Linked DNA regions of Homo sapiens. The protein of the gene in region 2 binds, or shares a complex with, the protein of the main gene of each other region. Each region holds a gene or a part of one and is shown on either strand. Other genes may lie near its edges. The genes, in order: MMS22L and TONSL.

Evidence for each region.
Region 1: TONSL (region 2) and MMS22L share a complex: the UniProt entries of both Homo sapiens proteins name them as parts of the MMS22L-TONSL complex.

What each region holds. Positions count from the first base shown.
Region 1 is NC_000006.12:97,275,592-97,291,267, reverse strand, and holds the start of MMS22L (protein MMS22-like), read left to right. Parts: upstream 1-8,051; 5' UTR 8,052-8,172; exon of another isoform or gene 8,173-8,281; intron 8,282-8,714; 5' UTR 8,715-8,790; coding exon 8,791-8,954; intron 8,955-9,905; coding exon 9,906-10,031; intron 10,032-12,369; coding exon 12,370-12,419; intron 12,420-15,676. UniProt on the Homo sapiens protein: Component of the MMS22L-TONSL complex, a complex that promotes homologous recombination-mediated repair of double-strand breaks (DSBs) at stalled or collapsed replication forks.
Region 2 is NC_000008.11:144,431,126-144,446,109, forward strand, and holds the start of TONSL (tonsoku-like protein), read right to left. Parts: upstream 13,316-14,984; 5' UTR 13,290-13,315; coding exon 13,265-13,289; intron 13,151-13,264; coding exon 13,055-13,150; intron 12,900-13,054; coding exon 12,757-12,899; intron 12,197-12,756; coding exon 12,013-12,196; intron 11,682-12,012; coding exon 11,552-11,681; intron 11,288-11,551; coding exon 11,116-11,287; intron 11,027-11,115; coding exon 10,912-11,026; intron 9,987-10,911; coding exon 9,841-9,986; intron 9,782-9,840; coding exon of another isoform or gene 9,746-9,781; coding exon 9,593-9,745; intron 9,352-9,592; coding exon 9,226-9,351; intron 9,086-9,225; coding exon 8,896-9,085; intron 8,769-8,895; exon of another isoform or gene 8,351-8,768; intron 7,658-8,350; exon of another isoform or gene 7,611-7,657; coding exon 7,528-7,610; intron 7,436-7,527; coding exon 7,346-7,435; intron 7,209-7,345; exon of another isoform or gene 7,103-7,208; intron 6,622-7,102; exon of another isoform or gene 6,574-6,621; intron 5,975-6,573; coding exon 5,902-5,974; intron 5,871-5,901; exon of another isoform or gene 5,796-5,870; coding exon 5,632-5,795; and 22 more. UniProt on the Homo sapiens protein: Component of the MMS22L-TONSL complex, a complex that promotes homologous recombination-mediated repair of double-strand breaks (DSBs) at stalled or collapsed replication forks.

The DNA.
Region 1 (15,676 bases), on a different chromosome or scaffold from region 2:
GTGAACCTGGGAGACAGAGCTTGTAGTGAGCCGAGATCGCGCCACTGCACTCCAGCTTATTTTAAATAGGTAATCTGCATGGAAGTAGTAATAGAAAATGTGTTTGGAGTAGGTTGGTTAGGAAAAAATACAGAGTGTGAAAAAGGGTAAGGTAATTTATGTACAAAGAAGGGTAAGGGAATGCATGGGAACTCTCTGTCCTTTCTGTTCGATTTTTCTGTAAACCTAAAAATTCAAGCTGGGTGCAGTGGCATATGCCTGTAGTCCTAGCTACTCAGGAGGCTGAATTGAGAATGAGAGGATCCCTTGAGCTCAGGAGTTTAAGACCAGCCTAGGCAATATAGCATGACTCCATCTGTAAAAATAAAAGGTGAAAAAAATTTTTTTTAATAATCCTAAAAATGCTCTAAAAATAAGGATATTAGTTAAAAGATATATAGAGAGCATGAGACGTGAAGGGTGCTTATTATCATTTGGTTAGATTTGGAATCAATGTGACTATTTAAATACAAGAAAACAAGATTTGTTTTGTTTTGCTTTATTGGTTGATTGACTGATTGATACAGACTCTCACTGTGTCACCCAGGCTGGAGTGCGGTGACCAATTTTGGCTCACTGCAACCTCTGCCTCCCGGTTTCAAGTGATTCTCCAGCCTCAGCCTCCCAAGTAGCTGGGATTACAGGCGAGCACCACTACCACCTGGCTAATTTTTGTATTTTTAATAGAGACAGGGTTTCACTATGTTGGCCAGGCTAGTCTCAAACTCCTGACCTCAGATGATCCACCTGCCTCCGCCATTCAAAATGCTGGGATCACAGGCAAGAACCACCATGCCTGGTTGCTTTATTTTTTTTCAATTTTTTAAATTTTTTCAGAAACAGAGTCTTGCTCTTTCACTCAAGTTGAAGTGCAGTGGTGCAATCATAGCTCACTGAAGCCTCCAACTCCTGGGCTTAAGCAATCATCTTGTTTCTGCCTCTCAAAGTGCTAGGACTATAGGCATGTGCCACCATGCCTAGCTAATTTTTTAAATGTTTTGTAGAGACAGGGTCTTGCTTTGTTCCCCAAGCTGATATTGAACTCTTGGCTTGAAGCAAGCTTTATTGTTTTTTTAAAAGTATGCTATTAGTTATATTAATTATCTATTACTATGTAATAGGTTACGCCAAGACTTAGTGGCTTGAAACAACAAATTATCTCATAGTTTCTCAAGATAACAAAATTTTATTATCTCATCTAGAAATCCGGAGGTGGGCTAACTGAATCCTTTGCTTCAAGGACTTTCACAGGTGCAGTCAAGTTGTCAGTCACCATGGGTGACTGGCAGCAATGTTGCTAAAATAGTTTAGCCAACCGTGAAGTTGGGGGCAGACAGTCCACACTACCACTGCCCTCAATTTTCACTCCAATTATAGGTCCAAGGGGTTCTCAAAACCACCCTAATCTTTGATAATTTGCTAGAGAAATTCACAGAACTTATTGAAAACTATTATATTCACAGTTATGGTTACAAGGAAAGGATACAGATTCAAATCAGCCAAGAGAAGAAACCCATATGAGAAAGTATCAAACTTCTGTTTGGTGAAACTTCTGTTTTCTTTTCCCAGTGGAGTCACGATGTGTTACTTTCCCAGCATCAACGTGTGAAAATATGCACAGAATACGGCCAACTAGGGAAGCTCACCTGAGCCTCAGTGTTCAGAGTTTTTAGTGGGTCCTCATTATGCAGGCATGTTAGAGTGATTACCCACATGGTTGATCTCAGTCTCCAGACTGATATCACGTGACTCAAAGACCCATCCTAAATTACATTTTTGATCTTTCAGCCATGGCCAACTGCCAGCCCAAATCACACTGTTAGATTATCCTGTATGATCCTAGGCCCCAGGCAAAAAAGACACTCTTATCAGACACAACATTCCAGAGGCTTAGAAATTACCTCTCATAAGCCAAGGGCAAAGGCCCAGACTCCTTTTTGGACAAGATTAAATTATTTACTATATATCTCCATGAGCTATCTATTGTATTAGATACAATAGATACAGGCCTAGTCATCTCAAATCTCAACTGCAGAAGAATCTGCTTTCCAAACTCGCTCAGATGATTGTTGGCAGAATTCAGTTCCTTGTGGACTGATGGACTGAGGACCATGGTTCTTCACTACCTATTGTCCAGAGTCTGCTCTCAGTTTTTGCCATGTGGGCCTTTCTAACATGGAAGTTTACTGCATCGAAGTGAACTAATCAAGAAGCTGACAGGGGAAGAATGTTAGTGAGAGAGAGAGTTCTAGCAAGATGTAATCACAGTCTTTTGTAAACTAATTGTGGAAGTGATATCTCATCACTTTTTGCCTTATTCTGGTCAATAGAAGCAAGTCTTTAGGTTCGGCCCACACAAGGGGAGAAGACTGCACAAGGACATGAATACTGGCAGATATTACTGAGAGCAATCTTAGAAGATGTCTATCACAGTAGGCTTTGGGAAAGAAGACAGGAGAGAGGGAGTGGTTGAAGGTTGAAGAAATAGTGGTAATTGAAGGATCAAGCTCCTGGAGGTAAAAGAAAATGGATTAAGAGCACAAGCAGGAGGGAAAGATGATAAAGCTATAGAAAAATGAATGAGGATCAATAATGGAGTTTTTCTTGTATGTAGATTTTTTCAAAGTTCTATGTGGTGTATTCCCTTGTTAATGACTAAGTGCCTTGAACAGTTGTATGAAAAGTCCTTTTCCTTTTATAGGAAAGTTGTTCCTTCTTAACCAACTACATTTCTCTGTTGCTACTGAAGTAGTTGTTTAAATCATAATATGTGTGCCAGGGAGTAGCACTTGAGAGGTTAAGAGTTCATTATCTGTTGCACAAAATTAGTGCATTAAAATACTGTGGGTCAACAGAAAGTCAGCTTACAGTAGGTTGTATAAACATTTACAATAGATAGCTCATGGAGATAACCTAGTATTTTCAATAGCACAGCACAGAACTAAAAGCCATAACTAAGTTGAGCTATCTCAGTGTATCCTCAACAGTGTCCAACTGTAATAATAAGATCATTAGAACTGGAGTTAATATTGGTCAGATATTGCTACAATGTTGAATCCAATTCTAGACTTAACAGCAGTTACTATAAAGTGGTAAGGTGATCCTCATTTACATTTAAGGGATAAGAAGGAACAGTCTTAAACTTTAAATAAGATTTCAATTAAAATCATAAACTTTCTGAAACTGAGACCTTTCAATCAGTGGAATATATCATATTAAGTTGAATTTGTGAAAAGTTTCCCTCCTACAAAACATGACATTCATATTAAATTGTTTGACTTTGAGTCTGATACCTGAAAACACAAGAATACATTATTAAATAGATGGTTTGTGGGTATATTTTTTAAAAAGCAGCAAGTTAGAATGGGTTCATTTATTATACAACATTCAAATTCTATCATATGTCCTCCCTGTTTTTTGTTGTTGTTGTTGTTGGTTTTCTATTTATTTATTTATTTTTGAGATGGAGTCTCGCTCTGTCACCCAGTCTGGAGTGCAGTGGCACGATAATGGCTCACTGCAACCTCTGCCTCCCGGGTTCAAGCAATTCTTCTGCCTCAGCCTCCCGAGTAGCTGGGACTACAGGTGTGTGCCTCCACAACTGGCTAATTTTTGTATTTTTAGAAGAGACAGGGTTTCACCATGTTGGCCAGACTGGTCTTGAACTCCTGACCTCAAGTGATTCACCTGCCTTGGCCTCCCAAAGTGCTGGAATTACAGGAATGAGCCACCGTACCTGGCCTGTCCTGCCCTCTTTTACCAAGTAGCTGAATGGTGCTGGAGAAAATGACAAAACCATGATGACTGAACTCTAATTTTTTGTCACAAATCTCAAATGATAACTCAACACTTCCAGACATTCTTATTATCTTTGCCTAGTAAATATACTTTTCTACTCACCAATATGACAATATTGCACCTCTTCTCTAATTTCTAACAACTACTCTTCCTTCTCACTTCCAGTTGATGTGTCATAGAGAAATAGGTGAAATAAAACAAAAACAACTCAACATTCCAACACGTAGTTCACCACCTCCAGCCATCTTATTCTGTATTTTTAAGATTTACTTTTTTTTTTTACTCTTCCTATTAGGATAAAAATTTTTTCTTGAGCCTATCAGAGGTTGATATGTCATTTGTGTAATGAATACTATCCCCTCTCATCTTTTCAATGCCTTTATTCTTGCAATTATTCCCCTTCTGTTCAGCATCTTTTTTCTTTCCATTTAATAACTGCCATAGCCTCGCAAACATGTTCTAACATCTTTTATCTTGAAAATACCATTTCTTGATCCCTATATGTCCCTCTGTCCTATTTTTATGCTTTATTTTCAATTAAATTCCTGGGTAAAGTTTTGATATTTGCTGATTCACCTCCCATTTTCTATATGACCCACTCCTATCAGATGTTTTTCCCCAACTACTCAACTTAAACAGCTTTTATCAACATTAGTAATGACCTATTTCTTGCCAATACCAATGATTAATCTGTTTTCCTTTATTAGCTTACCCATTCTTTCATAAAATACTTCTCTTGGATTTCATGACAGACATCATACCATACCACACACACTTGATTTTTCTTCTGTGGACTAGCCTTATTTCTTGCTTTTCTTTGCTGGCATTTTCTTGATTACTAGCAAGCTGAATATCTAAAAGTTTTTAAGAGTTTTAGCTTTTACATGTAGGTCTATGATCCTTACTGGGTTAAATTTTATAATATGAGGTAGGTTCATTTTTAAGTGTATCAGTATCCAATAGTTCTCTCACTATTTGTTGAAAAGACTATCCTTTCACCATGGAATTACCTTTGCCAAAAAGCAGCTGATCAAACGTGTATGGGGGCCTGTTACTGGAGTCTCTATTCTTTTCCACTGGCTATGTCTACCCTTAGATCAAAATCATACTGTTTTGATTATTGTAACTTAATGGCAAGTCCTGAAATTAGGTACTGGAATTCTTTCAACACTATTCTTACTCAAAATTGTTTCGGTTAATCTAGGCCCTTTGCATTTCCATATCAGTTTTGGAATGCATTTGTCAATTTCTACAAAAGAAAGTTCTCTGGGATTAGGATTTTGATTGGCAGTCCTTTGAAGCCATAGATAAACTTCAGAAGAACTTTTAATAATATTGAGTCTTCCAATTTATGATTATGCTATCTCATTCTATTTACTTGAATATTCTTGAATTTTTTTCAGCAATATTTTGGAATCCTTGGCAAACAAAATCTGACGCATATTTTGTTAAATTTAAACCTTGTTTATGTCATTAAATGGTGTTGTTTTCTAAACTCTAATTTTCAAATTGTCTTTTCATGTCTATAAAATACAATTAATTTTTGTGTGTCACTGAACCCCGCCACCTTGCTGAACTCATAGTTTTTATATATATTTGTAGAGATTTTTTTAGGATTTTCTATATGAATAATTATGTCATCTGAAAATCAAGACAGTTTTACTTCTTCTTATTCAATCTATATGACATTTATTTCTTCATCTTCCTTATTGCATTGACTAGTTACCTCCAGTAAAATGTTGAGAGAAGTGGAAAAAGTGGACATCATTGCCTTTTTCTCAATCTTAGGAAAAGAACATACATTTTTATAACTAAGTATGATATTAATAGCAGGTTTGTCATAGATATCACATATAAGGTAGGGAGTTTTCTTCCATTCTTAGTTGGCAGAGAGTTTTTATCATGAATAGATGTTGAATTTATCAAGTGATCTTTCAGTGTCTATTGAGATGACAGTTTTTCTTTTTATAGACTTGATATAATGAACTGATTACTTGTAGAAATTTGAATAACCTTGCATTCCTAACATGAATCTAATTTTCTTGTCATATGTCATCCTTTTTGTTTGTTTGTTCTGAGGCGGAGTCTTGTTCTGGAGTACAGTGGCGCGATCTCGGCTCACTGCAACCTCCCCATGCCGGGTTCAAGCGATTCTCCTGCCTCAGCCTCCTGTGTAGCTGGGACTACAGGCACATGGCGCCATACCCGGCTAATTTTTGTATTTTTAGTAGAGACGAGGTTTCACCATGTTGGCCAGGCTGGTCTTGAACTCCTGACCTCAAGTGATCCACCCGCCTTGGTCTCCCAAAGTGCTGGGATTACAGGCGTGAGCCACTGCACCTTGCCATCATATGTCATCCTTTTTATGTACTGCTGGATTTTGCTTGCTAACATTTCTGCTTTTATGTTTGCATGTGATATTGTATTGTAATTGTCTTTTGTCAGGTTTCGATACCAGTGTGGTGCTAGCCTCATAAAACAAGCATCCAATCTCCTAATTTCTCTAAGAGTTAGTATAGAATTGGTATTACTCCTTCCTTAAATGTTTGGGAGAATTTAATAGTAAGGCCATTTGGCCTGGAGAGTGTTTGTTTGTTTTGTTGCTTTTGAGAAATGGTGTTGCTCTGTTGTCCAGGCTGGAGTACAATGGCACACTCACAGTTCACTGCAGCCTCGAACTCTCCAGCTCAAGTGATCCTCTCACCTCAGCCTCCCTAAGTAGTTGGGACTACAGATGAGCACCACCACGCCTGGCTAATATTTGTATTTTTTTTGTGGAGACAAGGGACAGGGTTTCACCATGTTGCCCAGGCTGGTCTGGAACTCCTGGTCTCAAGGGATCCACCTACTTCAGCCTCCCAAAGCCACTGTGCCTGCCCTGGCCTGAAGTTTTCTTGTAAGAAGTGGTGTGTGTGTGTGTGTGTGTGTGTGTGTGTGTGTGTGTGTGCAGAGAGAGAGGAGGGAGGCTTAACCAAAGATTCTGAGTACTACGATAAATACAGAGATACTCAAATTTTCTTCTTTTGTTGATTTTTGACAGTTTGCGTCTTTTAAGGAATTTGTCCATTTCACCTATGCTTATTGGCATAAAAATGTTCATAATGTTCTTTTAATATCCTTGTCCTTTTAATGACTAAATTTCATAGTGATGAAACCTTTTTAATTCCTGATACTGATAATTTGTTTATTTTCTTTATCAGTTTGGGTAGGGGGGTTATCAATTATATTGCTCTTTTAGAAAAACAACTTTTGCATGTATTTCCTTCCATTTATTTCATCCCATTTATTTCTACTATTTATCATTTCATTCATTTTGCTTGCTTTGGTTTCAATATGCTGGGGGTTTTTTCTAGTTACTTAAGACAAAAGTTTATTGAATTGAGTTCTTCTTTTTAATGTAAGCAGGTACTGTTACAAATTTTAGTGTTTTCATTTTAATTTAATTCAACGTATTTTCTAATTTTCCTGTGATTTTTCCTGATTCACAGGTTAGTTAGAAGTATGATTCTTAATTTCCAAATATTTAGAGTATTTCAAGTATCTACTTTATTTCTAGTTTAATGCCATTATGATCAGACTATACACTTTGTACGATTTAAATCTTTTTAAAGTTGATGACATTTGTTTTATGGCTCGGAATATGGTATCGCTTAGTGAATGTTTCATGTGCACTTGACAGGAGTGTGTATTCTGCTATTGTTGGGTTGGTCACCTATAAACGTCAATTAGGTCAAGTTGGTTAGTGCTTTCCAAGTTTTCCATATCCATACTAATTTTCTGTCTACTTGTTCCATCTGTTACAGAGAAAATTAATTGTTGCACTTGCCTGCCTCACAGTCCATGGACAAAAGGCATCTGCATTCTAACAAGAGTTGCTGGCCCCAGAGCGGGAAGAGGGGACGGCGCGACTGTGGGTGTGAACGAGGCACTCACTTCGCACTCACTGGAGTAAATATCTTCTCTTTGGTCCGGCCAGAGGATAAACCCATAGTCCTTAAGTCCTCTCCTCCGCCTCAGCAGCAGTTCTGTTTTTTTTTTTTTACCAGGCCCCGCCTTTCAGCCGAACGCACCAATTAAAGGTACAAAAAAAAAAGTTTCTCAGTACCTCGTCCCGGACTGACGGACTCTCGCGAGAATTCGTGGGGCTCCGACTGTTTCCGCGCAGATATCGCGAGGCGATTGGTAGCCGGGGGAGGGCTGCGCCGTGGCCCCGCCTTTCCGGAGCGCGGGCGCGCGGTGGCGGGAATTTCGCCTGTTTGCGGTTTAGACCCCAAAGATTCCTGTTGGTGGTCTGGGTCACAGGAGGCAGGTTTCGGGAGCTGGAAATGTGAGCGGGTACGACAGGCACCGCGGGTAACCGACGCCCCGGGTCCTTGCTGCAGCCGGGTACGCGGGATACCGGCACCCCGCCTTCTCCGCCCGAGTGCTGCCAGGCGTGGGCCTGGTGGGTCTCGCCTCCTCCTTGGAGGGTCGGGGTTGGCCCTAGGGGTTGCTTTCCTAATTTCCACCCCGAGCCGGGGAGGGAGCGTTCTCCACCCTGCTGCTGGGAAACGGGCGGAGAGTGGTTTAGAAACGTTGCGGAGGGCGCAGTTCTAGGCAAGCCCGGGACGCTATGTCCTGCAGACATTTCTTTGCTTTTCACCTTGTCCTGGGCTGCAGAGCCCGACTTAGTGGCCGGATTTCGAGGTCCCTGCCACAGCCAGTTGGTTGTGCATTTTGTCTTAAGTTCTGACAGCCTTGATGGACGGAGGGCGAGGGGGAATTGGGAATTTGGCCTCTGGGTTTGTTCGTTTGTTTTTCCTTCCTGCTGGCGGACGTCTTGAGAACTTTCTGAAGTAATCCCCACTCTCTCGGCCCCACCCCCCCCCCCCCAACAGGAATCTCTTCACACCTTCTCTTTGGAGCCCTTAATGATACGACGAACCCCAAGTGTTTCAGAACATGAAGTAAACAATGGAGAACTGTTCTGCTGCATCGACGTTCCTGACTGACAGCTTAGAGCTGGAGCTGGGGACGGAATGGTGCAAACCTCCTTACTTTTCTTGTGCTGTTGACAACAGAGGAGGAGGAAAACATTTTTCTGGAGAATCCTACCTCTGCAGCGGAGCCCTTAAGCGGTAGGTAAAACTCAGAGACATTTTCCCTCATCTGATTATTCACCAGTTTTTTAGGAATGTTAGTTATTTCAGCCCATTAAACTTTGGTGTTCACCAAGTCGTGTTTTATAAATCAGCTTAGTATATCATAAGGGTACAAATGATTATCAGTTCTGCTGGCTTCTTGGTAAGGGCATATCTAAAGTATTTGGGGTATTAGGGAAAACTTCCTTGGTAACTGATGTTCCCTTACTGTAGGGAGCTGGGCACTAATTTTTCTTCTACTTAAAATGAATTCCTAACTATCTGAGCCTTTTGCAGTAGTATTTCCTTCTAAAGAGTGTGATAATATTCTAGAGCTTTCCAGTAATATTTAAGAGAGACAAACATTTTTTATTGCCCCTGTTCCTTCTAATCCTACCTGCACATATAGAAGTGTATAGACTTATTTTGCCTTGGGCAGGTACATATATATTACAGTAAAACTGTTCTTGAAATATTTTGGTAATACCTGCTGAGGCAGTTTCAGTGAGGAAACTATTTTTGTTGACCTTATAGTTGTACCTTGTTAGAAATCTTAAATAGAATACTCAACTTCATTAGTTGGATACTATTCTCCAGACATGGCTCAGAATAACTGTTAGCAGTTTTAAAATTAAATGTCCCCTCAAAGGATGAAATTCTACAACTGAAGACTACTGGTGAAGACAGGCAGAAATATGTTTTTTAGAATTCTTGTTGATTTTTCCTCTTAAGTTACATTACACTTTAGTCGTACATTTTATCAATATAGAAGATTGACGTTTTAATACAGTCTAGCTATTGTAATCTTGAATGTGTAAAGTACCAAGGCATTTTCTGACTTTTTATACATGTCATGTATAATATGGATTCAAATAATGTAAAGAAAAGAGCCGTCGTATTATGGTACTTAGTATACTTTTTATGAGATTGAAACAATTTTCATTTCAGATTGATTTTGAATCTTGACCCTTTACCAACTAATTTTGAAGAAGATACCTTGGAAATATTTGGCATTCAGTGGGTTACTGAAACAGCATTAGTGAATTCATCTAGAGAACTCTTTCATTTATTCAGGTATTTCTTCGTTATAACTTTCTGTGAGTGTAGGTGTTGTTCACTTTTGTAAATTACGTTGTTGGGTGGCTTCTAATACTGATATTACAAAAGACCAGAGGAATTGTGCTGGTTGCTCACTTGATTATCTTACCAGTAACAATAATCAAGCAGCAATGCCTGATGAGTAATGGTTTTAATGAGTTGCGTTTTCAGAATCTTTATTCTTTGCATTTGACACATGTATTGACAAATATTTAAGGCTTTGAACTATAATTTTTAGAAGAAAATTAAAATATTTTTGTTGTGCAATAGCCATAGTCTTTCAGTGATCTTTAGAGTATGGTCTTAACAAATAAATTGTTTAGACTGTGTAATAGAAATATTAATTATTTGGACAACATTTAAAATTTTTTTAATGAAAAATTTTAAGCATACACAAAATAATAATATAATGAACATCCATATACCCTCCTTCAGTTGCAGTAAACAACAACTTTTTATTACATTTCCTTCATCTGTCTTGTCTCCTCTTCTTTTGGCCTAAGTATTTGTAAGGAAATCCTAGGCATCATGTCGTTTCACCCATAAATACTTCAGTATGAATTTCTTAAAAATATGTGCTTTTTAAAAACGATGAGGACGGCCAGGCGCGGTGGCTCATGCTTGTAATCCCAGCACTTTGGGAGGCCGAGGCGGGAGTTCGAGACCAGCCTGACCAACATGGTGAAGCCCCTTCTGTACTAAAAATACAAAAATTAGCCAGGCGTGATGGCATGCGTCTGTAATCCCAGCTACTCAGGAGGCTGAGGCAGGAGAACTGCTTGAACCCAGGAGGCGGAGGTTGCAGTGATTTGAGATTGCCCACTGTACTCCAGCCTGGGTGACAGAGCGAGACTCTGTCTCAAAAAAAAAACTCATCTCAATTAATAAAAATTAAAGTTCTTCATTATCATTTAAGACACAGTTCATATTCAGATTTTAGGTAATTTTAAACAGGAGTCAGTTATTGAAAGCTAATTATTCCAAAACACAGTAAAAATCTATATGTGATACATTTAAAGGAAAATGGAGAGGTGGAAGGAATTCTCTCACCATCATCCCATGAAACCTTTTGAAGAGACTTAAACTGTATCTACGCCATGTCATACGTTTTATTGATAGAACAGGCTCAGTGAGTGATCCTCTGTAATCCTGAAGATTACAGAATGAGCGAGTCTTTATCTAGGACATAGGTTATAAATATGGGTTAATTTTTAAAGACTTTGAAATCAACTAGGAAGAATAGCAAGAAATTGCTATCAGGAATTAAGATGGAACATGATAAATAACAGCTTTCCCTGATACTTTAGTCTACATTATTCCTTTTTTGAACTTCTATTGTATAACTGTATGATACAGTTTAAAATTTTATTATGTAACTGTTAACCTAGAATGTTTTATGTATCTTAAACTTCTTTTTTTTTTTTTTTGAGAGGGTGTCTCACACTGTCACCCTGGCTGGAGTGCAGTGGGGTGATCTTGGCTCACTGCAACTTCCGCCTCCCGAGTTTAAGCGCTTCTTTGCCTCAGCTTCCCGAGTAGCTCGGATTACAGGGTCCCCCCACCACGCCCGGCTAATTTTTGTGTATTTTTAGTAGAGATGGGGTCTCACCATGCTGGCCAGGCTGGTCTTGAATTCCTGACCTCAGGTGTTCCACCTGCCTTGGCCTCCCAAAGTGCTAGGATTACAGGCGGGAGCCACTGCACCCCATCTTAAACTTCTTTTTTTTTTGAGACGAAGTCTTGCTCTGTTGCCCAGGCTGGAGTGCAGTGGTGCGATCTCTGCTTACTGCAAGCTCCAGCTCCTGGGTTCACACCATTCTCCTGCCTCAGCCTCCCGAGTAGCTGGGACTACAGGCGTCCGCCACCATGCCGGGCTAATTTTTTCGTATTTTTAGTAGAGACGGGGTTTCACCATGTTTGCCAGGATGGTCACGATCTCCTGACCTCGTAATCCGCCCGCCTCGGCCTCCCAAAGTGCTGGGATTACAGGCAAGAGCCACCACACCCGGCCGTAAACTTAAAGATATAAACAGTATCTTGCTGATGGTGAAGGCTATGGTATTTGAAATAATTTTTGAGATATATGCAGTCTTTAATAGATAATTTTGGAAGGTCAGGCAAAGATGTATTTTATCTTTTCTTAAAGTTTTCATTACCTGAAGCTGATCCTTTAATTAACATTCACAAGGTATTAATCATCATCCCCAAATTAAAGAGGTATTGAAGCTGTGTAATTTGGAAACATTGTCCACGTAATTGTTACATGCTTTAAAGTGTTCTAAAATTAACTCTCACCTTACATTTTTAAAATTAGGCAACAACTGTACAACTTGGAAACCTTGTTACAGTCCAGTTGTGATTTTGGTAAGTTTAAGGTGTGTTTAATGCAAAAGGGAATGGTGCTTCATTATAGTGAGTTGCACATGGGTCCATGATGGTATAATTGGCATATCATGATAATACAGAGGAAGCATTAGGCCAGAAGTTTACGAATTTAGTGTTCAGAAAAGTATGACTTTTTAAATTTTGTTGTAGCTGAGATATATAGTATTTTCCCAAATCTGTAGATTTTAAAGGTAAAACCGACTTAAGCTAAAATTCTCTGAAGAGAATTAGTACTTGTTTTGGAGGTAGGGAGTGGGATAGAGAACTTAAATGAGAACTAAACAGTGCCAGACCTCATGCTGTCTTCTTGATTTTCTTTTCTGCTTTCTGCTTTTGTGTTTGCTTTTGGTGTGTGATGGATTACTGATTTTTTTTTCTTTTGTTTAGATTGGTATAGTTGGTTTTTTTTTGCTTTTTTTTTTTTTGATAGGGAGTTCTGCTCTTTTGTCCAGGCTGGAGTGCAAAGGTGCCATCTCAGCTCACTGTAACCTCTGCCCCCCGGGTTCAAGTGATTCTCCTGCCTCAGCCTCCCGAGTAGCTGGGATTATAGGCACCTGCCACCACCCCCAGCTAATTTTTATATTTTTAGTAGAGATGGGATTTTGCCATTTTGGCCAGGCTGATCGCAAACTCCTGACCTCAAGTGATCCCCTGCCTTGGCCTCCTGAAGTGCTAGGATTACAGGCATGAGCCACCGCATGTATAGCTAAGGTAATAAAGGGAATTGAAGGGCAGTGTGTTTTAGTGCAGTCTGGCTGCTTCTCCTTTCTAGTAATTTTGGTGCAGTGCAGTGTTTAGAATCATGGCCTTGTCACCCTGGCTTCCAACCCTAGCTAATTGTGGGTCTTACGTCAAGTAATAGTTCTAACTTTGTTGAGCGTGTTAAGTGCTTAACACAGTGTCTACCATTATTGATGCCTAGCAACCAAAGACTACCTGGAACACTTTTGGTCAAACAGAGGTTTATTAGATTATGAAAAAAGGAAAAATACACATTACAAGGAAAAGCTGGGGCTTGTCAGTAAGAGGGAGTAGGAAGGGACTTGTGATATGTTTGGGGCTCATTCTGGTGATTTTCCGTAGGGCTTAAGGGGGATAAGGCTATATTCTGGATTGGATGCTGTTAATTAGCAGGGGCAATTTGAAGAGTGGGTATTTTAATTTTTATCTAGGAGGTGAGACAAACAAAGGGAGCATCCTAATTAGTAAAAAAGTATTGTCCTGGTCACTGGAAGAGGGAGGATGTGTTTTTTTGTTCATTTTGTGTGTGTGTGTGTGTTTTGTTTGGAGTGTGTGTGATTGCATAGTGCCATGTTTTGTATTCAGACATGGTTACAGAGGTTTTGTTTTTGTCTTGTTTCACTGTAATGGAGTGGCCCTGTATCATTATTATTTATTATTATTATTATTTTTTGAGATGGAGTCTCGCTCTGTCACCCAGGCTGGAGTGCAGTGGCATGATTTTGGCCCACTGCAACCTCCAGCCCCCTGGGTTCAAGCAATTCTCCTGCCTCAGCCTCCTGAGTAGCTGGGATTACAGGCGCACACCACCACACCTGGATAATTTTTGTATTTTTGGTGGAGATGGGGTTTCACCATGTTGGTCAGGCTGGTGTCGAACTCCTGACCTTGTGATCCACCCACCTCGGCCTCCCAAAGCGCTGGGATTACAGGCGTGAGCCACCGTGCCTGGACTATTTTTTATGTTTTATGAAAATTGTTTATTTTCAGTAGGGGATACCATGGCCTAGCTGTTAGCTATCAGCTTTTAGGCTGTTTTATATTTTTTGTTTTCTTAATATGTTACGTGATTTGTAAATGTTAAGTATTATTGTTTCATTATCATCTGATGGGTCCCTGGTTCATGCCAGGTACTTTGCAAGGTACTGACGAATCAAAGAGGAAAAATATGCTGCTGATGAGTTTGCAGTTGTGTAGACAGCTAGACATGCAAGCATACATCAGCTTGGTAAATGAAAAGGTACGGTGATAAAGGAATGTACAAGCTGCTGTGGAAGCCAAGGGCTTTGTCTATCTGTGAGCTCCTCACTAAATGATGCCAGATCTGGGTCTTCACAGATGGGAAGAAATTAGCTAGGCAAAAGATTTGGGAAAAGTTTTTCGGACAGGAAGAATTCCAGGCAGAAAAAAATAAAACTGTATAAACAAAGACGTGATGTGTGTAAAAACATAAAAGTTTAGAGAGCATGGATTAAATATTAATTACATATGGTTGGATCAGAATGTGTGTGAGTGATGAATTTGGAAGGGATAAAAGCAGAGTTGGCTTTGTAAACCATGACAGAGAGTATGATTTTTATTTTGGAACTCCTGTGGAGCCACTAAAAGATTATAGTGGAAAGAACCAAAATACCTTTACCTTTACGTAGAATAACTTAAGTAAATTGGGTTCATGGAAGGCATTTATTATGATAGATTATTATTATTACACTTATTAACCTGAAACCACTGCAGTGGACTATTTGTTAAGATGGTTGTTTGTTACACTGACATTTTGGCTGTTTTTGTTGCTTAAAAAAGCTTTTAATGACAGATTTTGGACAAGTTAGTGGTGTTAAATATTATCCATACATGAACATGTCCCTGCCATGTAGCTGTGTTCATTAACTTGTGTAGCTACCCTTGGACCTCAGCTGTGCCAAGAAGTCCCTATGTAGTTACTTACTGCCAGATGAGTATAGTTCTTGTTCTAGCCATTATGCTTCCAGGGTTAATTTCCAGTTGAGGCAGAATAACATACTTAATGACATGTTTTGCTGACAGCTGTTTTTTTTCTCTCTTTCCGTCTCTTTGTCTCTGTCTCAAGACAGGGTCTCACTCCATCGCCCAGGCTGGAGTGCAGTGGTGCGATCATGACTCACTTCAGCCTTGACCTCCTGGGCTCAAGCAGATCCTCCCATCTCAGCTTCCCAAGTAGCTGAGACTACAGGCTCACGCCATCATGCCTGACTAAAATTAATTTTTTGTAGAGATAAGGTCTCACTATGTTGCCAAGACTGGTCTCAAACTTCTGGGCTCAAGTGATCCTCCCGCCTTGGCCTCCTAAAGTGCTAGCATTATAGGTATCACCCACCACACTCAGCCAAGAGCTATTCTTAAATATAATTGTTGGTGTTACCCTGTCTCAGCTATTGTGTGTGTGTTTTTTTTCTCTAGACATTCCTTATGGATTTTTTAAAATGTCTTCTGTTTCTGACTTCATGCTTGTTTTCATC
Region 2 (14,984 bases):
GTCAGGTGGGCTAGAGCACAGCCTTCCTGGACATGAGCAGAGGCCCAAGGGGGCCAAACGGAGTGGCGCACCTGCCCTGCCTGCTTCCCAGCAGGTGCACCACACCCAGGGGCCCAGAAGGGAGCAGAGTCCCCCATCAAGTTGGAGATCGGAAGGAAACACCTCTCCTGATGTGGGTCACACTCTGCACGTGATAGTGTGAAAATAATAGGGTCCCAGTTGTGCCTGGAAGACCCCCCAGGAGAGAGCATCAGGGGCCCTAGTGTGCCCCTTGGGACCTTCCTGGCGGGGGGCAAGATCACCCTGAGTCCCGGGTCCTATCTGGTGGGCAGGAATTCACAGCCTGAGACAGGCAGCTGTACAAAAGCATTCCCCCAGCTGTTTTTTTCTTTTTTTGTTTTTTTTTTGAGACAGAGTCTCGCTCTGTCGCCCAGGGTGGAGTGCGGTGGCGCCATCTCGGCTCACTGCAAGCTCCGCCTCCCGGGTTCACGCTGTTCTCCTGCCTGTCTCCCAAGTAGCTGGGACTCCAGGAGCCCGTCACCACGCCCGGCTAATTTTTTGTATTTTTTAGTAGAGATGGTGTTTCACCATGTTAGCCAGGATGGTCTTGATCTCCTGACCTCGTGATCCGCCCGCCTCGGCCTCCCAAAGTGCTGGGATTACAGGCGTAAGCTACCACGCCCAGCCTGTTTTTTTCTTTTTCTTTCTTTTTTTTTTTTTTTGAGACGGAATCTCGCTCTGTCACCCAGGCTGGGTGCAATGGTGCAATCTAGGCTCACTGCAACCTCTGCCTCCCGGGTTCAACCAATTCTCTGCCTCAGCATCCCGAGTAGCTGGGATTACAGGTACCCGCCACCACGCCTGGGTAATTTTTGTATTTTTACTAGAGACAAGGTTTCACCATGTTGGCCAGGCTGCTTTTGAACTCCTGACCTTGTGATCCACCCCCTTCGGCCTCCCAAAGTACTGGGATTACAGGCGTGAGCCACCGCGCCTGGCCCCCCAGCTGTTTTTTCTAAACCTCCAAACCTCTAACTCTCTCTGTAGAGCCCCTCAGCGAGTTCAGCCCGAATCTGGGGAGAGGCGAGCTCCTCCCAGCAACCCTGGGACCTTTGGCCTCTGAGGCTCAGTATTTTCTGGGTTCTTCCCCACCTCGTACCTTGGCCAGGTATCGGAATACAGGCTCCATGAGGTCCGAATCACCCTTGCCGGCTGCCACGGAGCTGAGCTCTAAGTGCAGGAGGGTGCCGGCGGGCAGGCTCTGCAGGGTCCTGGCCAGGGCAGGGGCTCCCAGGGCGTTGTAGGACAGGGACAGGGTCTTCAGGTGCTCAGCATCTGCACCGGGGCCAGAATCCGTCAGCCCCACGTGGCCACAGCCCTGTACCCACCCCAAGTTCTGGGCCCAGAACCCTCAGGACCCCTTTGGGGAAACCACTACCGCAGTGCTCGCAGGGTGGGGTGGCAAGTGCAGAGGCAAAGGCTCTCGCCCAGATTCTCCCAGCTGGGAGGGCGGGGCCAGACTTCCAAGCTCGGCTGCCCCCAGTTCTGGACAACTTGCCCTCTCCCACCCCACAACCACACGGTCCTGGGCCACATGCCTCTGCACAGTGGGGGTGCCAGGGGAGTGCACTGACCATTGCTGCCCCCCTTACACTCCCCCTGGATGACACCCAATTCCCAGCCTCTTGGCACTGGGACCCCAGTCTCTGCAGCCTGAGTGGGCTCACAGTGGAACTGCCTCAGGCGAACAGCACTCAGCTGGCGAGCACGGGATGGGGACCACAGGACACTAGCTGCCCGGACTCTGCTCTCGGTGTGTCCTGCGGGGGTCAGCCTGGCTGGGTGGGCACCAGACGCCCCTCGGAGGCAGACCCTGTACCCACACATCCATCTATTGCTCCCAGGTGCCAGGCCCTCCCGGAGAGCCAGGTCTGGCATCCCAGGCCCCTAGACGTTGTTTGTTTCGTTTTTTTGACACGGAGTCTTGCTCTGTCGCCCAGGCTGGAGTGCAACGGCGCGATCTCGGCTCACTGCAAGCTCCGCTTCCCGGGTTCATGCCATTCTCCTGCCTCAGCCTCCTGCGTAGCTGGGACTACAGGCACCGGCCACCACGCCCAGCTAATTGTATTTTTAATAGAGACGGCGTTTCACCGTGTTAGCCAGGATGGTCTCGATATCCTGACCTCGTGATCTGCCCGCCTTGGCCTCCCAAAGTGCTGGGATTACAGGCGTGAGCCACTGCGCCCGGCCTAGACGCTTTTTTCTTAAGGGATGGGGTCTCACTATGTGGGCCAGGCTTTCCTGGAACTCTTGGCTCAAGCGATACTCCCGCCTCAGCCTCTCAAGTAGCTGGGACCACAGGTGTTGCCCCTGTGTGCCCAGCCTGGGCCCCCTCTGAAAGTCCTGGAAACCCTCAATGCCCCAGGGCTAGGGAGTGGACAGGGAGTGCCTGGTCAGCTCACCTTGGAAAGCACTACCCAGTGCTGTCTGGTGGCTCAGAAAGAAGCTGGGGCCGAAGCCACACGCCTGCAGGCGCAGGGTGCTGAGTAAGGGGCAGGCGTGCAGGAGGGAGGCCAGGGACTGGCCACAGCCGTCCCCCAGGGGGTTCATGCTTAAGTCCAGCTCCTCCAAACTCTGTGGAAGACACAGGCTGGCAGTGAGCCCCCAGCAGTCCCACGGACAGGGTCCCCCTTGGGGCTTGGCTTGGCAGTCTCTTCCCCACCTTGCCTGGCATAGCCTATTACAGCCGGGCACTGGCTGGCTCTCCCAACTACCCTAGACCACCCAGGGACCTGCAGAATGGGAACCCCAACTCCCCGCTGTTGAGGGCCTGCTGCTCTCTGTGCCTATACCTGCAAGGTGGCTTGGCCTGGGAGCCCCATGGCAAGCTGGCGCAGGCCTTCGGGACCCAGGTGATTGGAGGAGAGGTCAAGGAGGGCCAGGCTGGGCATGGTGCCCAGGGCAGCCACCAGCTCAGCCACACACTTGTCCCCCAGCCGGTTCCCTGCCAGGCGCAGCTCCCGGAGTGCTGTGTGCAGCTTGAGGGCCCGCAGCAGGGGTGTAAGCTGGGCCTGGTCCAGGGCCAGGGAGCAGGCGCTGAACGAGAGGCCCAAGCCCTGGAGCTCCACGGCCTGCAGCACCTGTTGGTGCTCCCCTGCGGGAGGGATGTGATGTCACCAGGGTAAGGCCGGCCCTTTCTGCCCTCTGAATCCCAGAGGGCAAACCAGGCAGCCCCTTTTCAACAGCCCCAGGGGTCACCCACCAGACTTGCTGTAGAGCCCACTCGCACATGCCTGTGGGTCTAGCACTGTGAGGCCCTGGGGGCCGGGGTGGGTCTGCAGCACCCTGAGCTCCACCAGTCACTGCCAGATTCCACACCCCCCGGGACAAGCTTTCTGGGAAGCTTCCCCAGCAGCTCCCAGCCCATGCCAGGCCCTCCTCCTTGGGTTTGACTTTCCAGGCTTTCGGCTGCTTTTTGCCATCTCCCTGTCAGCAGATCATGGGGGCTGAGGGCTGTCCTCTCCCTTCCACCCACACATCCAAGTGCAGGACACAGCACCCACCAGGCTGGGGGAGGTGCACCCCAAAACACCCGAGGCCCAGGAATGAACCGGGCTGGTGGAGCCTGTGTGCCCAACCCCCTTGTACGACCTCACCCAGAAACTGCAGCTCTCCTGGCCCTCACCTTGCCCCAGGCTCTGGCAGGCCCTGCGGTAGCGGTCAGTCAACGGGGGCAGGTCCCACGAAGTCACCTCAGCCAACACCTGGAAGGCACCGTCATGAGCCACCTGGGGGCTCCCCCGGCTCACCTCATCATTGCTCTGCAGCCATGAGCCACCCGGGGGCTCCCGGTGCCTGAGGCCCTGGCTCCCCCTCCGCTCTGCGGCTCACCTCGTCATTGCTCTGCAGCACATCAGGGATGAGGTCCTGTGGGGCCAGCAGGGCCCCCTCTTTCCGTAGGGTGAGCCTGGGCAGCAGCCCGCAGGTCTGGTAGTAGCGCTGGGCCGCCTGCTCGGCCAGCCAGGCCACAGAGTGGGTGTCACTGCTGCAGGGACAGAGGCGCTGCTGCTGCTGCCTGCACACAGCCGGGGTAATGCCCCAGGGACCCGCCATCCCTGCCCAGGGCCAGAAGCCCCCTCAGCTGCTTCTCCCATTCCCAGGTAGCCGGCCCCTCCTCTCCCTGCAGCCCAGCACACCACCAGCCCCTCTGCTATTCCTGGGGGCCACAGGATCCTCCTGGAACACACCAGGGAGCCCTCGTCACACGCCCCACCCTGACATGCAAACACGAGCACCCTGGCATGGAGCTGCACAGGTGGGCTGCGGGGTAGGGCAGGCGATGCCTCACCTGTGTGGGACAGGGATGAGGAAGAGATGATCCTGAACTTGAACTCGAACCCGGATGGGAGGGGGCGGGGCCGGACCCTGGCAGGTGAAGGCAGCAGGGCTGAGTCAGGAGCCACAGTGGGCTCCACCCTACACCTGCCTGCCCGGAGTGGGGAGAGGGCTCTGCTCCAGGTCTGCATACCCACCAAGGGCTGGCCTGCCGCAGAGCTGTCCCCACTGGGCTCTGAGACCCTGGGGGTGCTGGGGCTCCCTGGAGGTTCTGAAGCCAGGCTGCTGGGCCCTGCGTTAACTGGCGCACTGCAACTCTGCATGCAGGTCAGGCGGACCTGCTTGGCTCGGGCACGGGGCCTGCTCTCCTCACTGTCCGACCCAGAGGTACTACTGGGCCTGCGGTTGTCTCCAGTGCCCCGGGGGCGGGGCCGGCGGCTGCGGGTCAGGGGCATGTCCAGCTCCAGCCAGTCCCCGGCCAGGCACTCCTCCTCCGGGATGAGCGCTGCCTGGGGGGCAAGGGCTTTGCTGTGGCCCCGCGGTGGGCCAGGCCCCAGCCGGCTCTGAGCACTGCCCACACCCCGGATGGCTGCCTGGTAGGCTGCCCGGCTGGTGCTGGCTGTGGCTGCTTCCCTGTTGCTGGCGGGGCCAGGCGTCCAGGCTGCCACCCGTTGTGCTGTGGCCGAGCACCGAGGCCTCTTCTGGGACGGCCGTGCGGGGCCTGCGCTGTCCTCGCCTTCTGAGCTGCTGCTGCTGCTGGCTGGCCCATGCCTGCTCCTCCGAGGCCTGGCCATGGCTGGTGCCGCCTGCCCTGGGGAGACCCTGACATGGGCCTGAGAGGCCTCTGGGAGTCTAGTGCTATTAGAGGGGGGTTCTGGGCAGGGGCTCAAAGGAGGAGAGGTCTCGGGGTCAAACAGAAGGCTGCTTGGGGTGTGGAAGGCCTGGGAGCTGTGGGGATCTGTGGGAGAGAGAATGCGTGTTGAGGCAGGGGCCCGGCACCTCCCGCTCCACCTGTGATGGAGCATCTCCCGAAATCAGGGCCCGGGGACTCTCAGCGTAGGCACAGCAACCCCAGGGACAAGGGACGCCCTGCTTGCCTTGGCCCGAGGCAGCCGCCTGGAGCAGCATCTCCATGGCCCTGGCCTTCTGCCGCGTCTCCAGGTCCAGGTCCCTGCGGTACAGCTTCACCCACTGCTGCAGCGTCTCCAGCGGGCTGAGGCCCTGTGTGGCATCAGTTGAGCAGGGGCACAGCAGCCCCCATAACCTCGCCCTTGCCCTCTGCCCCACCAGGCTCACCTTTCGAGTGCGGAGGGTGACGGACGCCCCCCGTTCAAGCAGCAGCTCAGCCACCTCGAAGTGGCCACAGTTGAGGGCATCGTGGAGGGGGGTGATGCCTTCGCAGCCCTGGCCACCTGGGTCGTCCACTGCGGCCCCGTGGTCCAGCAGGAAGCGGACAATTTCTGCAGACCAGGAGACGTAAGCCCAGCTCCCGATGCCCCGCCAGGACTGACTCTTCGCCCCACGTGTCCACCAAGGTGCGCCAGGCTCCTTCTGTCCCTTGCTCACCTAGATGCCCGTAGTTGCAGGCCTCGTGCAGAGGTGTCCAGCCACAGTAGTCCCGAGGGTTAAGGGGGTGGCCCTGTGACCAAGGACAGGAAGGAGCCTGGCCCTGTGTACCTCACAGCCTGGCCCCAGCCCCGTGAGCTCTGCAGCCTAAGCTGAGCCCAGGGCCTCAGTCTTAGAGCCCAGAGCAAGTCCGTGGCCCTGCCCTCTCCTCCTCCGGCCTAGGTGTCACCAGTGAAGGACATGCTTCCCCCTGAGACAGGTGGACCAGCCACAGCATATCCTCCGCCTCTGTGCCTGCCCGGTCCCCTTGTGGGGAGACAGTGCACCTGGTCGCAGGGGCATGAGGCAGGCGGGGCGGGAAGGTGCCCAGATCTCAGCCCATGGGCTAGCCCCCATCCTGGCCAGGCTGACCAACTTAGCTGTAACACAGATGCATACCACACAGCAGGTACCCCATTTTTTTTTTGAGACCAGCCAGGCTGGTCTCAAGCTCCTGACCTCGTGATCTGCCCACCTTGGCCTCCCAAAGTGCTGGGATTACAGGTATGAACCACCGCGCCCAGCCTGGGCACCCCATTTTTTTGTGTTTTTTTTTGAGACAGAGTCTCGCTCTGTCACCCAGGCTGGAGTGCAGCGGCGCAATCTCATCTCACCGCAACCTCCGCCTCCCAGGTTCAAGCGATTCTCCTGCCTCAGCCTCCCGAGTAGCTGGGACTACAGGTATGTGCCACCATACCCAGCTAATATTTTTGTATTTTTAGTAGAGACAGGGTTTCACCATGTTAGCCAGACTGGTCTCAAACTCCTGACCTCAGGCAATCCGCCCGCCTCAGCCTCCCAAAGTGCTAGGATTATAGACATAAGCCACTGTACCCGGCCTGTGGCTTTTCTTCTGAGACAGGGTCTTGCTCTGTCACACAGGTTGGAGTGCAGTGGCAAGATCATGGCTCACTGCAGCCTCCACCTCCTAGGCTCAAGCAACCCTCCCACCTCAACCTCCAAAGCAGCTGAGACTACAGGCACACGCCATCACATCCACCTAATTTTTAAATTTCTTGGAGACAAGGTCTTGCCAGGGTGCCCAGGCTGGTCTCGAACTCCTGGGCTCATGTGATCTGCCTGCCTTGGCATCCCAAAGTGCTGGGATTACAGGCATAAGCCACCCCGTGCAGCCTCCGCTTTTTAAATTTTTTTGAAACAGGGTCTCACTGTGTTGCCCAGGCTGGAGTGCAGTGGCATGATCGCGACTCCTGCAGCCTCAATCTCCCTCCCAGGATGAAGTGATCCTCCTGCCTCTAGGACCACAGGCAAGTGCCACCATGCTTGCTAAGGGGCCCCATTTTGAAGATGAGGAAGTTGAGAGTTACAGAGATAGGGGATCCGGCACAAACGCACAGCTCCTCCATGCTAGGCAGCCTGTCCCACGTCCCAGAGCGGGGCCCACCTGCCTCACAAGGTCCTGGACGCGGCGCAGCTGGCCCTCGATGCAGGCTCGGTGCAGCAGGGTCTCCCCCATGTCGTTTCGCCGGTTCCACTGTGGGCACAGCCAACCCAGCACAGGGCAGGGGCGTGAGGAGCTGGCAGGGCTGCTGAGCGGGGTGGGTGGGGGCAGGGCACTGTCCTCACCTTGCTCCCCTTCCGCCGGCCCAGGTGGCCCTGAAGCTCCTCGTCCTCCTCCAGCTGCGGGGTCAGGCCATCGGTGTCGTCCTCTGGAACAGAGCCAAGCCCACCCCAGGGGAGTCCGTGGGAGGTGAAGGTTAGCAGCCCCCACCCTGCTGCAAGCTCCCCAAACTCCCAGGTACAAAGGAGCCAGAGACGGGAGGGCTGAGCTCTGAGGCTGCTGGGCTCTGGGGGCTCCTCAGCAATGGTCCCAGCGCTGCCTCCATGTCTCCCTGACCCTGCTGGGACCCTGCTCCTGCCCACCATCCCTCTGCCCACTTGAGACACACCCCTGAGCTTTCTGCCCTAACCCACGCCTGGCCCTCCCACAGAAGGCCTGCCCGAGGCCCCCTCTGTCCATGCGCCAGCCACTCATCCCCACGCCCAGACCGGCTCGTGGGCCAGTCTTCCTCCACCCCACGCCTTATCCACCCCCATCTCCTGAGCTGTGTCGTCAGGCCAGGTCAGCCCTGGAGCCTGGGTATCCTGCACCTTGCAGCCTCCACCCTGCCTAGGCAGCAGACACACCCGCCTCCGTCCCTGCTTCGGGTGACCCCTCATCACCACGCCCTTCACACCCTGCCAGCTGCCTCTGGGTCTTTCCGCAGCTCCTCACTGTGCCCACCAGCTGAGCAGCATTCCCCAAAATTCTAGATCCTGATCCACCTCCCCCCAGCAACCAACCTGGCAAGGCCCCAACTTCCCACAGCTGCCTGGCCACTCAGGGTTCTAACGACGCCCTCGAGTTCAGAGCTGAAGTCACAGCCTTCCCTGGAACACCCCCCAACAGGCCTCATGGACAGGCTCCTGCCACCCACCACTCAGTCAGAAACCAGCCTCCCAGCTACCCGCTAACCCCGCTCTCAGCCCTCTCTCCCTGCACCACGGCCAAGATGGCTTCAGTCCAAGCCCCGCTCCAGCCAGTCCCTCATGCCTGCCCTCCGTGCAGCTGATGTCGCCAGCCTCTGGAGGAAACCCAAGCCTGCTCTGAAGGGTTTCAGGAAGGTGCTCAGCTCTTGCAGAGGCAGCCGGGGCTCTTCAAAGTGCACCGTCTCACCCCTGGCCCCAGATGGCACGTGCCTCTCTAACGGGACCATGCCCCAGCTGACACTCACTCGACTCCCAACCACTGTCTCCTCCAGGAGGCCAAGGCCGCCCCAGGCTCCCTGCGGGTCACCACCTTCTCTGTCCAGTTCCGGGAAAGCACTGGCCGTCCTGCCTGCCTGTGGCTGTTCCTGCTACAGCCCTAAGCAGGCTCCACAGCAGCACAGCACACCCCTCTCCAGCCCGGCCCAGAGCAGGCCCAGGGAAATGCAAGGTGCCGCTGGCCCTCACCGCCCTCTGAGAGCTCCACCTCGCCGGCCTCCAGGGCTTCGCTCTCCGCTGTGGCTGCCGCCTCCTCCGCCTCCTCCTCCTCATCTTCATCTTCAGCTACACTGAGCTCCCGTAGTCTGGTTTCGGTCTCAGGGGCCTCCTGGGGCTGCAGCCTCAGCTGCACGGTATGGAGATGCTGCAAGACCTGCCTCTGAGGAGCAGAGGGATGCTCAGCTCAGGACTGGGGGCTGTGGACGCAGAGAAAGATGGGGATGGGGCACAAGGGGCAGGCAGGCTGCAACGAAGCTGGGCTCACCGGGGAGCCAGTATGGGTGGGATGGGCTCTCGCACCTGCAGCTGGGGACGCTGGGCCTGCTGGGCACAGCTGAGCGCTTTCTGGAAGCACGGGGCCAGCAGCTCGTAGGCATCGCCGGCCTCCTCGCGGGACAGTGCAATGTTCAGCCAGGTCTTGGCCTCCTGGAGCAGGAGGAAGGACAGGGTCGGGGGCTGCCGCTGTCTGCGTCCAACGGGCCCCAGTCAAGCTTCCCCGGCTGCCCAGACGAAATGGGAGCCCGGCCTCCCAGCTGCCGAGGGTGGATGGTCCTAGGAAGGAGCTGCCCGTCCAGTAAGGACACCTGTCCATGGCCACCCTGAGAACGGCAGTCCTGAGGCAGAGACATGGGTGAACCTGCATTCGGGCGGGGAGCAAGGGTTTCACCTCCAGCACGTTGCCGCTGCGCAGCCTCAGTTCCTCCTCATAGTGGCGCACGGCCCCATGGTGGTCCTTCATGTCTCCCAGTGTGGTGGCCAGGGACACGTGGATGATGGCCCGCTCAGCACCCGGTCTGTCCAGCAGCTCAGCAAAACGCAGCTGGGGGCAGTGCCAGTGAGGCCAGGGGCTGCCACCCTGGCCAGGCCTCGTCAACCTCACTGGCCCTTCCCTCCCACCCAGCCGGGGCCACACACCTGCTTCTGGTAAGCCTCAGCTGCCCTGGGAAAGTCTCCTGCCTTGGAGAAGAGGTCCCCTAGCTGCTCACAGATGACCATGGCACCCTGAGGGTCTCTGCCCTCAGCCTCTTCCAGCTGTTGCTGCAGCCGGACCACTGCCAGCACTGCCGGGAAGAGGTTCATGCAGGGGGGCAGCACAGGGGGCCCTGACCCCAGCTCTACCACCTGCAAGCTGTGAGCCCTGTGGTGGCCCCCCCACTCTCTCCACACCTCTGCCTGCCTGTTGGTGTGGGGGTTAATAGCAGGGTCTATCTTGGGGACTGGTCTCAAGGGTCACAAGAACTAACACACTTAAAAACTCGGGGCCAGGTACAGTGGCTCACGCCTGTAATCCTAGGACTTTGGGAGGCCGAGGCGGGCAGATCATGAGGTCAGGAGATCGAGACCATCCTGGCTAACATGGTGAAACCTCGTCTCTACTAAAAATACAAAAAATCAGCCGGGTGTGGTGGCGGGCACCTGTAGTCCCAGCTACTCGGGAGGCTGAGGCAGGAGAATGGCATGAACCCGGGAAGCGAAGCTTGCAGTGAGCCGAGATCATGCCACTGCACTCCAGCCTGGGTGACAGAGCGAGACTCCGTCTCAAGAAAAAAAAACAACACAACATGGATGGTGCCTGGCTCAAAGTAAGGGCTGACGGCTGCCAACCTCCAATGGTGGTCTCTGCCATCAGCACTCCTGGACCACGCGTGCCATCTCCTCTCCCACCCTGGGAGGCTAGGGGTACAACTACTGTCTCCAGTTTGCCAATGAAGATGGTGGCTGCGAAATAAAAGCCCAGCTGGTCTCCTGGCCGCCCTTTCATTGCCCCTGACACACTGTGTTGAGCTCAGAGAAAAAAGGGGGTCTTCTCCTGTCAGGAAGTAGGGGTACCTGCCCCTCTTGCTGAAGCTGCTGCCTCCAAGGACAGGTGCTCAGGCCTCCTCTGTGAGGGAGAGAGCCCTGTACACACCTGGCGGGACTCCACCCCGCCCCCAGGCTCACCCCTGCACACACCTCCCAGGGCCCCATTCGCACCCCCAGGCTCACCATGCTGGAGGTTCTGACAGATGGCTGCCCTCTGCACAGGCTTCTGGGAGCCCAGCCTGTAGGCCTTCTTCAGGGCTCGCTTGGCAGCCAAAAAGTCTCCCAGGTCTTGGAGGACCTGGAGAGCAAAGGACAGCAAAGGTTTTGCAGAATCCCCAAGGCCCGAATCTACGAGAGCCTGAGCTCGGAGCCACGCACAGCGGGTACCTGTGCAATAACCACGCAGCACTCGCTCTCCATGAACCGCTTCCTCATGGTGTGCGCACACTCCCGGGCACCCTCCAAGCAGCGCATAGCCTGGGAGTGCTGGCCCGCGCGCCAGTGGATGGTGCCCAGGTTGTAGCGGGCGCGGAATAGGTCCTCGTAAAGGTGGTTCTGCCTGCAGAGGGGTGACGACCACTGAGCACCCAGGAGTGTCCATGACAGCTGCTGATGCCACACGGGCCCCAGCCCTGCCATGCTGTGGTCTCAGGGCCCTAACCATGCCTGGCCTTCTCCCAGTGTGTGGCACAGGTGTGAGAGGTGGGGGGATGAGGCCCAGCCAGACTGCTCTCTCAGGAGGACTCTGGGAAAAATACTCCCCTAACTACTTCCTCCAGGAACAAGGGACTCCACTCCCTCCTGGGGCGGGGCAGGGCCTTACTCCGCAAGGAAGATGCTCTTCCTGAAGTAATCGTTGCACAGGGCTGTCTGCTGCAGGCTCTCAAAGGTGAGGCCCAGGTTGAGATAGAGGCGGGTCCTCATCTCATTCAGCTCTCCCTGGGCCAGTGTCCCTGGAAGATACCCCCCCAAACACTCAGCCACTTCCTCCCCACATGGGGTTTCCAGCTTTGGGCCCCATTTGGGGCCTGTGCAGCGCCTCTCCTACCCCCTCCCTCCTCCCGAGGTGGGTGCAAGTGTCCTGCGGCAGATGGAGCACAGAGTGGATAAAGAGCTGACGATCTCCAGGGGAAAGGTTGAGCGGGGCATGCACCCCTCACACAAGAGCCTTGCAAAGGGAGGGCTCCAGAAGACGGGATTGCCCAAGGAGGCTGCGGGGGTGCTGGGCTGCAGCCTCTTCGGCCCGAAGTTCAGGAGGCAGAAAACGCGGAGGGGTCTGCCCACCCTCCAGCTCCTCATCCACAATAGCCAAGCTCTTCTCAAAGGCAGCCTGTGCCTGCAGCAAAGCATCCCTCGACTGGCAGTGGTCATAGATGTCCAGGTGGGTGCGGCCGATGGTGGCCCAGGCCCTCTGCAGCTCCGTGTGGTTGCGCAGGGAATGTGCCAGCTCCAGGTACTGGTGCTGGTGCTGAGTGTGGAAGGAAGTCACTGCTGTGAGCCGACTCCGCCTCAAGCAAACCGGCACCGCCAGATTCCCAGAGACCCTGTTCTTGCTAAGGAAAGAGCCTGCTCCCCCTAACCCCCACAGAGCAGGCCAAGGCCAGACACGTGCCCCTCCTCTGCATGCCAAGGGCTCTCTGTGGTGACAGTGGCTTCACGCTGTATGCAGCCAACGCTGTCACGTGGGGAGGGGCAGCTGGGAGTTGGCGGGGGGGTTGCAGTCCTGCCTCCAGCAGCCAGGGTCAGGGAGAGCTTTTGGGATGGGGCCTGACCTCCCCCAACACAAACACAGCTAAAATAACGTTCAGTAATGGTTTCTGGTGCCAGGAAACCTACTCCTGCCCCAGTCCCAGGAAAGGCTGTGGGGTCCCCACCGGAGGACTGGCCCGGGGCGGTGAAGGCAAGGCTGCGTCAGGTCAGGTGTCCCCTCCAGCCCGAGGCTCCTGACGGCGAAGACCAGGCCTCCCTCCTCAGAAAAGGGCTCCAGAGGCCGACCGGGCTGGACGAGGCCAGTGAGGGCGCCCGCACCTGCAAGGCAGCCGGGTAGTCCTCCATCTCGGCCAGGCGCTCTCCGATCTTGCGGTGGGCCACGGCACAGCCCAGAGGGTCGTCAGCGCGCTCCCGAAGCTGCAGCTCCTGCCAGTGCTGCTCCAGAGCCTCGGCGTAGCGGCCTAGGCGGGGGCACAGCACGGCCTGGCAGGCGTCGCGGGTGCGAGGGCGGCCCTGGGGCGGCGTCTGCCGGAAGAGCCCGTCGCCCCCCGGCCCCCGATCCCGGCCCGGGCCCGGGCCCCGGCCCTGCCTCCCGCCTCCTGGTCCCGGCGCTCACCATGGCCGGCCAGGAGCTCCCCCAGCTGGTGGCACAGCGCGGCCTCTTCGCGCCGCTGCCCGGCCCTCTGCGCCTTGGCTTTCGCCTTGCTCAGCTCTGTGGGAGGAAGAGGAGGGCTGGGCCTCCGCGGCGGGGTCCGGGGCCGGGGCCGAGTCCCAAGCCCTCCCCAGCCTCCGCGCCCCCGGAGGAAGGGGTCCCCGAGGAACTTACGGCGAAGCTCGCGCTCCAGGCTCATGCTCGGATCGCCGCGGGATCCGGACTTCCCGCGCTGCGCCGCGGCCCCGCCCCTCGCCGCCGACACGCAGGCCCCGCCCCTCGCCGCCGACACGCAGGCCCCGCCCCTCGCCGCCGACACGCAGGCCCCGCCCCTCGCCGCCGACACGCAGGCCCCGCCCCTCGACGGCGGCGGCGGGCGCGGGGCATTCCGGGAAGTACGGTCGGCCCGCCCGCGGCATCCTCGGAGTTCTCGTGCGGGAGGAGCTGGGGCGGGGTGGCGGCGACAACTGGGGCGTCCCACCCTAGGGGCCGTCTTCCCGGACGCCGGGTTGGCCCGCGCGTGGAGCCCTCTGCCCGGCCCGGGGAGTGCCTGGTGGGGACCCCGTTCCTCCTCGTAGGCGGCGGGGACGCGGGAGGCCGGGGGCCCGGAGCCAGCCCGTCCGGGGTCGCAGCGCGCCCTGGGTGGGGTCTTCTGGGCTGCAGCCCCCGTGCCGCCCGCGCTACTCATGGTGGACGAGCTGTGCCGCCGCCCCAATTCCTCCCGAAATTCACACACACAGCCTGCTCACAGGCGCAACTATTAAAAACGAACGTAGTGTCCAGATAGACTGACGATAAATTCACGAGCATTTGGCTGTGGGGACGTAATAAGGTGTCAGGCGCGCTCCTCCTCCGCAGAACGCAGCTGGGTCACATTTGGGGACTCGGCCCCAAGGACTGTTTTGGGAGGGGAATGTGCTTTCCATAGTGAACAAGTATTGTTTCAGCAATGTGTATGCCAGCTGTATTCTCGGAAGAGTCAGTGAACCTGTGCTTCAGCTGCAGAAGTAGCCCGGGCACAGTGGCCCGCACTGTAATCCGAGCGCTATGGGAGGCCCGGTCAGGAGGATCGCTTGAGCCTAGCAGTACGAGACCAGCCTGGGCAACATAGTGAGGCCCCATCTTTCGTGTGTGTGTGTGTGTGAGACGGAGTCTCGTTCTGTCACCCAGGCTGGCGTGCAATGGTGTGATCTCGGCTCACCACAACCTCCGCCTCCCGAGTTCAAGCGATTTTCCTGCCTCAGCCTTCCAAGTAGCTGGGACTACAGGCGCGTGCCAGCATGCCCGGCTAATTTTTGCATTTTAGTAGAGACGGGGTTTCACCATGCTGGCCAGGCTGGTTTCAAACTCCTGACCTTGTGATCCGCCCACCTCGGCCTCCCAAAGTGCCGGTATTACAGGTGTAAGCCACCATGCCCAGCCCGATACCCCATCTTTATTTAAAAAAAAGAAAGGGAGGGAGGGAGGAAAAGAAAGAAAGGAAGAAAGAGAGGGCCGGGCGCAATGGCTCACCCCTGTAATCCCAGCACTTTGGGAGGCTGAGGCAGGCAGATCATGGGGTCAGTGGATCGAGACCATCCTGGCTAACACGGTGAAACCCCATCTCTACTAAAAATACAAAAAATTAGCCGGGCGTGGTGGCGGGTGTCTGTAGTCCCAGCTACTGGGGAGGCTGAGGCAGGAGAATGGCGTAAACCCGGGAGGCAGAGCTTGCAGTGAGCGGAGATGGCGCCACTGCACTCCAGCCTGGGCAACAGAGCGAGACTCTTGTCTCAAAAAAAAAAAAAAAAAGGAAGAAAGAGAGAAAACAACTGCAAAATTATGTCTAGAATCCTGTGACATGGGGCACCCAGGCCTCTAAAATACCCTTGCTATCCCCCATTACCTTGAGGAC